Linked DNA regions of Homo sapiens. The protein of the gene in region 1 interacts with the protein of each later gene in a pairwise test. Each region holds a gene or a part of one and is shown in the gene's direction. Other genes may lie near its edges.

Region 1 (3,833 bases):
ACTTGATTTGAGACTTGGGTAGGGGTGAGGGAACCAGGTTATTTTTGTGGCCTTGTAACTAGAAAGGTCCATGCAGGCAGACACCTACCTTCATCTGCTACATGTGTGTGGCTGGAGCTGGGAATTTGTTTCTGCTTTTTAAAGCTCTGAGTTTTTGCTTTCTGCATGATAATCAGCTTCAACCTAGCAGTGATACTAAATATACTAAGGGGTTTGACTCTTTTACAGATTGCTGGTACTTGTCTTGCATTATGTTTATCAAGTGATTTGAAATCATTATCAGTGGTCACAGAAGTCTCTACCAATGGTGCTTCAGAAGTTTCATACTTTCAGGTGAGTATTGGAACTTGATAACGGTAGAGAGTAAATATGTATTTAACAGGTTTTATATAGGTTTTTATCCACATCTCACTGTATTGTAATGATCATTAAAATAATGCAAAAAAATCGACTTGGAATTTCTACATCCTAATATACTGAGTGTTATTATAGTGAATACCATATTATTCTTCCCATGCTCCAATACAGTTTTCATAAAAAGTGTTTTGGTGGTCTATTAATGACCATATTAATTTGTTGCTATTCCAGTTTGACTTTGTACCAAGTGTTTGCTTAGGACTCTGTCCCTGATAATAACAAAGGTTAATATTTATTGATTGTTTAATATGTGCCATATGCTGAATGCTTCAGAACAGTTGATTTGAATCTTCACAGCATCATAATAGGCAGATACTGTTATTATCCCCATTTTATAGGTAAGTACATGGACACACAAATACTTCAGAACTTGCTTGATGTCACAGGATGGGAAAGTGATGCTAGACAATCTGGCTGCATAATCTGTGCTCTTAACTAGCACATTGCATCTTGTGTAAAATGATCACTTAATATTGGGAAAATGCTTTATTGCGTGCTGTCTGCATTGTAGATTAAGGAAGCTAACTGGGCTCCCATAGAGTATTTAGATCATAGCCTTGCCAAGAAATCGAAAATTTTCATCTTAAATATCCCAGCCACTTAAGTATGTGTGAACTCTCAAACAAAAGTAGAACAAAAAAGATGCAAGATGCAATGTGTGTGATGTCTTCCAACATTCTCTTTGTATTCAGAGCATCAGAGAACTCTTGGTTTACTGTTCACTATGGTAATGGTTGTTCATATTTGCTCATCTTCTTAAGGTTATGTGAAACTATGATCACCAGGATTGCATTTGGATTATAATAAAATGATTCACTACTACTGTGAAGTTGGTAACAGATCATTTTTAATGACAAATTTATTAAGATACAATTCATATACCATTGATAGATATTTTCCCAATATTTATCAGTAGCCTTTAATTCCTTATACTTCCTTTAAGTTTTTACATATATTTGTGATTTAAACATTTCTTTGTAATACTGTTTCAAAATAGGTTATATTACATTTATTCTATCTACACAGGAGGGGTTGATAACCCAGAGAGAGTGATTTGTGTATGGTTATGTGTAGGTTAGGAGATCCTAAGGCTATGTGCTGTTTCCAAACCGTTCTGCTCAAAGAGGGCACAATTCTGACATAGTCTTTCTGATACGTAGTTTGACCCACACTCTAAATTACAGACTTTGCAGCAAGTGCATCTGATGATGACTCACTTTACTCTTTTGATTTTACAGCTTGAAACTAATCTGTTGTACTCTTTCTTACCTGAAGTAACTCGGATGGCCAGAAAGTTTACTCATATTTCAGCTCTGTTACAGGTATTTATTTAGAGCTTGTTTTATGTGAATATTTATTATCGGCTTCTAAAGTTCTGTAAATAAAAAGCTTCAAAATTTTGTTTTGTAAAGCTTTCTGAAGTAGAGGTATCTAGTCTGATAGATGATCTTATAAGGTCCATTAAAGCAGGAAAAGGACATTTAATTGAGAACCTACTTTCACCGCACCCTATTTTCCACCTCCAAAAGAGTTTAAATCTTTTAAAATACTCCCATAAATAAAATACCATTTACATTATAAAGTATTGTGGGAAAAACAGTCTTCACATGAGTTTACATTTGTTCATAATAAACCCACCCCAAATTACCTCCCAATTCTGTAGGTTGGTGATTTAGGCTCAGCTTAGCCAAGATGTTTGGGTGACCTGGAGAAGGTTCAGCTGATCTTGACTAGACTTGGTCATGCCAGCTGGTATGTGTCCCTTGGCTGTGATTCCTTGTCTCTACTCCACATCCTTCATACTCCAGCGAGCCAGCACAGGCTTGTCCACATGGTGGTGGTAACGGGGCATCGAGGGTGCAAGTGGAAGTGTACAAAGACTTTTGAGGCCCTGGAGTCAACAGTGTTATTTCTGCTGCATTCCGTTAGTCAAAGCGAGACTCAAGGGCTGAAGAAATGGACTCTGCATCTGACTGGAGGGGCTACAAAAGATTGTGGCCATGTTTTTCATTCTACCACAGTCATTAATTTATTTGATATTAAAGGTTTCTAGAGATCAGTATCTTTTTAAAATTGAATAATTGACCAAACCAGTATTTTGACAGTTAGTGTAGATAAGACATATCTTATATAAAAAGCTTGGAGATATTTGTTTCACCAGATAAAAATTTAAGAATGTTTTATTATGAAATTCTAAGAATCAATGGAATGTTTCGTAGTTAAGTGATGACCAAGCTGTTGTCTTTTTCTCCATCTTAACTGAGTTAAAAGAGTGATTGAGGCTGGGCACAGTGGCGCACACCTATAATCCCAGCACTTTGGGAGGCTGAGGCAGGTGGATCACTTGAGGCTTGGAGTTCGAGACCAGCCTGGCCAACATGGTAAAGCCCCGTCTCTACTAAAAATACAAAAATTAGCTGGGCATGGTGACGCACGCATATAATACCAGCTACTTGGGAGGCTGAGGCAGGAGAATCGCTTGAACCTGGGAGGCAGAGGTTGCAGTGAGCCAAGATGGCGTCACTGCACTCCAGCCTGGACGACAGAGCAAGACTCTGTCTCGATAAATAAATAATAAAAATAAAACAGTGATTGAAAGTAAATTCTAGATTTCTTTGAGACACTTGATCATAAGCACATATTATTTAGATAGCAAGTTGGTTTAAATATTTTTTACCATTTCAATTTTTCTTTTTTGCTAATAGTATATAAATTTGTCACTAACATGTATGTGTGAAGCATGGGAAGAAATACTAATGCAGATGGATTCTCGTCTCACCAAGTTTGTGCAGGTAAAGCAGCTGAAGTTTCCCATGGAGAGAGTTAAAGAATGCATGATGTATGTCTTTACCTTGAGGTACATGAGAAAAATCAGTTTGATTCATAAAAGGCTAAGATCATAATTTCTTTCAAATGGCTTCGTCTGACTTCAAACTGCTTCCTCAGATTTGCCAAAAGGGCTCTTTTCCCATTGATACAACTTAAGTGGGGACAGGATTGTGAAGTGGAGCTGGTGGGGCTTTGGCAATAAGGGCAGGTGTTAGAACAGCTGATTGGCTATCTTCTAGTCACTGATGTTCAGATGATCACTTTATGGATTTGATGGAAGTCTAAGGCAAGGAAAGGGAGTCATGCTCCTATAATTTTGAATAAATATGCTTATAATTTAAGAAATACATATATCACAATTTTTTTTTCACTTTTTTCCAGGAAAAGAACACAACCACATCAGTGCAAGATGAGTTCATGCACTTGCTATTATGGGGGAAAGCAAGGTAATAAACTCAGATTAGGTGCTCCTGTTTTTGCTTCTTTTTTAACAGTAATTATTTATTTGAAAAGTAGTTTATAGTCATAGTATGTGATTTTTTTAATTGATACATAATATTTTAATTGATACATAATGTGTTACATAC
Region 2 (3,833 bases), on another chromosome or scaffold:
GATCAAATTCATTGCATCCACAAAATTTCCATTATTCTTTCTTACTCTACACTCAAGAATCTATAGCTCCTTGTATTATGGAAACCTTGGCACTATATTTTTACTTTACCTTATATTATTTCATGTATTTATCTTATTTTTTTCTCATCTCCACTGTATGTCTATTCTATAAGTTTTTAGGACAGGGATTTTTGTGCCTTGTTTACTTGTATATCATGTAACACAAGGCCATAATAGGTGTTTACTAATATGGCAACTCAAATTGAGTAAGAAAGTTGAACCATCAGCAGTGTAAGACTGATTAAATTTTTGAAGCTAGAGCAAATGAAAACAGGTCATTCTTTTTATTTCAGTTTCTGTGATTGTAATAATTAGAGATTTTTATTGTTACCCTGCTTTCATTTTAAAACAAGGTTTTTCAAACAATCTCACTTGTTTATACCTTTCACATTAGGATTCTTGGTCCAAATTTGTAACATGAGCTTAGTTTTTTTTTTTTTTTTTTTTAACCTCTTGTGACTATGTGCTACTGATCTCTACATTTTGAATAATAGTGCTTACTTATCTGCCAGCAAAGCACCCTGGAATATTCTGCTACAGAATTGTAACATACACCTACAATCATAACATTCAATTTGAATAAAAATATAAAATATCCAATTTAAAATCACACACAGCTAAATTTCTCTGTGGGCCAAAAATGTATTTAGTACCTCCACTTCTGTGAGATTTCACAACTTAATATTTTTGTGTTTTATTTCTTTAATCATTGTCGCATGTACAATATGTATTAGAACTTTGAGGTATAAAAAAAATGCTTAACTAAATTAAAAACTTTTCCTCTCAAGTTCTACATCAAACAGTTCGTTAACTGCAGACGTAAATTCTGGATTTGCCAAACGTGTTCGACAAGATAATTCAAGTGAGAAGCACTTACAAGAAAACAAACCAACAATGGGTATGTCTCAGCTTTTAATTTGATATTTAATGGTATGACTCTGTAACACACATATAGTACTTTACGTTTTTTATTGTGTTTTCATAAGAATCTCCCTTTATTCATCACCTTTACTATGTGGTAGAACAAGTATGATTATCCACATATTATAGATAAGGAAACTTTAAAACACAAAAGCATTTACCCAAGATCACACAGATATTATATTGGTAGAGCCAAAACTCAAGAACCAGATCTTAAAACTCTACTTTCTACACCCTTTTAGTTATCCCTACTGTCTCATAATAATTGAAATAATTGGCTAAATGTATTACTTAATGTTACTAATTAAGTGTATTTTGCAGATAAACTATACCCACTTTAAATTTTTCTCTTAGCGTAATATTTTGAATAATTTGGCCTCTAACTCAATGTGTAACTACTACACAGATTCCAGTCTGTATCTAGTTACAATCATATTGTAACTCCCATTGGCAAGTTGGAAAAGATACTGATGGATCTTTCCCATCAGTATGAAAGATACTACATTCCATCAACCGCATATGGGAGTGACATGAGTTTATGGTAACAAAACCACTTCAGTTAAACTAGTGGTGTATCATGCCAGCCAGTTTTCAGGCCCCAACATCTAGACCTCTGTCTCTGATACTACAGTTCCTAAGACTTCATTCAGAAACTATTTATTCACTAGGCATTTACCATGTCCTGTGATGAATACAGAGAGCAGTAAGACACAGTTTGATTGTTCTCTATAGGAACTGATAATTATAGCAAATGCAATTTAAAGGTGTCTCATGATATAATTTTTCTAAGGATAACATGAAAGCTATTGTTAGTTTTTTTCTGTCGATGCCCTTTGATTAGAGTAATATAAAATTCCTCAGTAACTTTGTCAAACTATATTGGTAAATGCCTGCTTCCTGTAGTAGCCAGTGTTTACCTTAAGTTCAATGGAAATTGAAGCATCAGACAGCAAATTGAAACATCAGACAGTAAGGTAGTAAAGTACAAAATTTACCTTGATCATTTGGTTTGACATGTTGTATTTAATAATGCTTAAAAATGTGTATCTGTAGTTAGTTTAGGTGTGTACTGCCCCACTGATCTTCTTAAAAAGTTCTTCAAGAATCATAATTCTACAGCCAAATAATAAATTTATAAAAACTCTCAAATTGGCCGGGCGCCGTGGCTCACGCCTGTAATCCCAGCACTTTGGGAGGCTGAGGCGGGTGGATCACGAGGTCAGGAGATCGAGACCATCCTGGCTAACATGGTGAAACCCCGTCTCTACCAAAAAAATTTTAAAAAATTAGCCGGGCATGGTGGCAGGCGGCTGTAGTCCCAGCTACTCGGGAAGCTGAGGCAGGAGAATGGCGTGAACCTGGGAGGCGGAGCTTGCAGTGAGCCGAGATCGCACCACTGCACTCCAGCCTGGGCGACTGAGCAAAACTCCGTCTCAAAAAAAAAAAAAACTCAAATCATAGAACTTGGCTTTTTCTAATATGCTTATTATCTGAAGATACAAATTCATCAAATATTTCATGTATAAAGAGATGTGAGTAAAAATATCTACTATGGGGAAAAAAAAGTGGGAGATGATAATAAACCACAATGCTTGCCAAAGAGGTATTAGTTTGTAAGGAAAGATATTTTATATACATTATAATGTTCAAGTGAAAAATGTATTAAACCAGTTTTCTAACTAACAATGTACAAATAAAGAAACATAGGACCATCAGTAGGGAAAAAGGCAACTCCTGTTAACTTAGCAGTTAGAGAAATAACAGAGAGTGTTAAGGGAATATGTCCCTCTAAAACTAAAACCTAATATGGCCAACAAAGTGGATAAGCAATTAAACTAATCCTGAAAAAAGTCAATGGCACCCTGTTGTAACAACACTTTGTTGAGTAGAAAATGACGGTGAAAGCTAATGAAGAACCAGAAGAATGGGCATAAATAGAACATACTTGAGAGGTGGCAGTAAAAGAAAAAAGAGCTATAGGATTAAGATCAGCCCTTTAGGAAGTACTAGATGCAAATGATAATTTTAAAATTGGAAAAATATGGAAGTTTAAATCCCTGGGGAAATATAATCCAAGGAATGAGAAAAAATGGTGATACAACAAAGAAAATGAAGAAATGCTTGTAGAAATGGTCTTTTATTAGTCAGAAAGAAAGAAAATGAACATAGTATTTAATTCAGCGACTTCACCCGATGTCTGTGTATGTGCACGCACTCACTGAAACTTTAGTTTGCAATATGAATTTGAACAGCTTTTAAACCAAAGGTATTAATGTCTCTTTGTTGTTGTTATATTTTAAATTATGTTAACTAACAACTATGAATTTCAAGAGTAAATTTTTCTTTCTATGGTCATAATTTTTATAAGTTGAACGATGAAAACTTTTTGAATGATATTTATGCCATATTTATGCATCTTTTTATTTCTTCTCTAGAACATAAAAGAAACATCTGTAAAATAAATCCAAGCATGGTTAGAAAATTTGGAAGAAATATTTCAAAAGGAAATCTAAGATAAATCACTTCAAAACCAAGCAAAATGAAGTTGATCAAATCTGCTTTTCAAAGTTTATCAATACCCTTTCAAAAATATATTTAAAATCTTTGAAAGAAGACCCATCTTAAAGCTAAGTTTACCCAAGTACTTTCAGCAAGCAGAAAAATGAAACTCTTTGTTTTCTTCTTTTGTGTTCTAAAAAAATAAAATTTCAAAAGAAAAGGTTGTCTTTTAAGTTTTTTAAATATTTGTTGCCTTTTAAAATCCCTGAGTGTAAGTTACCATGGTGGCAGCTTAGTTTTACTATGCCACAACAAGTTGACTAGGACATTTTAGTAAATGGTAGTGAGTTAAA

The links.
Region 2: the proteins of ANAPC4 (region 1) and KIF18A interact in binary tests that used the Homo sapiens proteins (3 or more experiments, as listed by UniProt).

Annotation. Positions count from the first base shown.
Region 1 is NC_000004.12:25,390,683-25,394,515, forward strand, and holds part of ANAPC4 (anaphase-promoting complex subunit 4), read left to right. Parts: intron 1-228; coding exon 229-333; intron 334-1,655; coding exon 1,656-1,739; intron 1,740-3,122; coding exon 3,123-3,209; intron 3,210-3,627; coding exon 3,628-3,692; intron 3,693-3,833. UniProt on the Homo sapiens protein: Component of the anaphase promoting complex/cyclosome (APC/C), a cell cycle-regulated E3 ubiquitin ligase that controls progression through mitosis and the G1 phase of the cell cycle.
Region 2 is NC_000011.10:28,020,866-28,024,698, reverse strand, and holds part of KIF18A (kinesin-like protein KIF18A), read left to right. Parts: intron 1-848; coding exon 849-958; intron 959-3,416; coding exon 3,417-3,499; 3' UTR 3,500-3,833.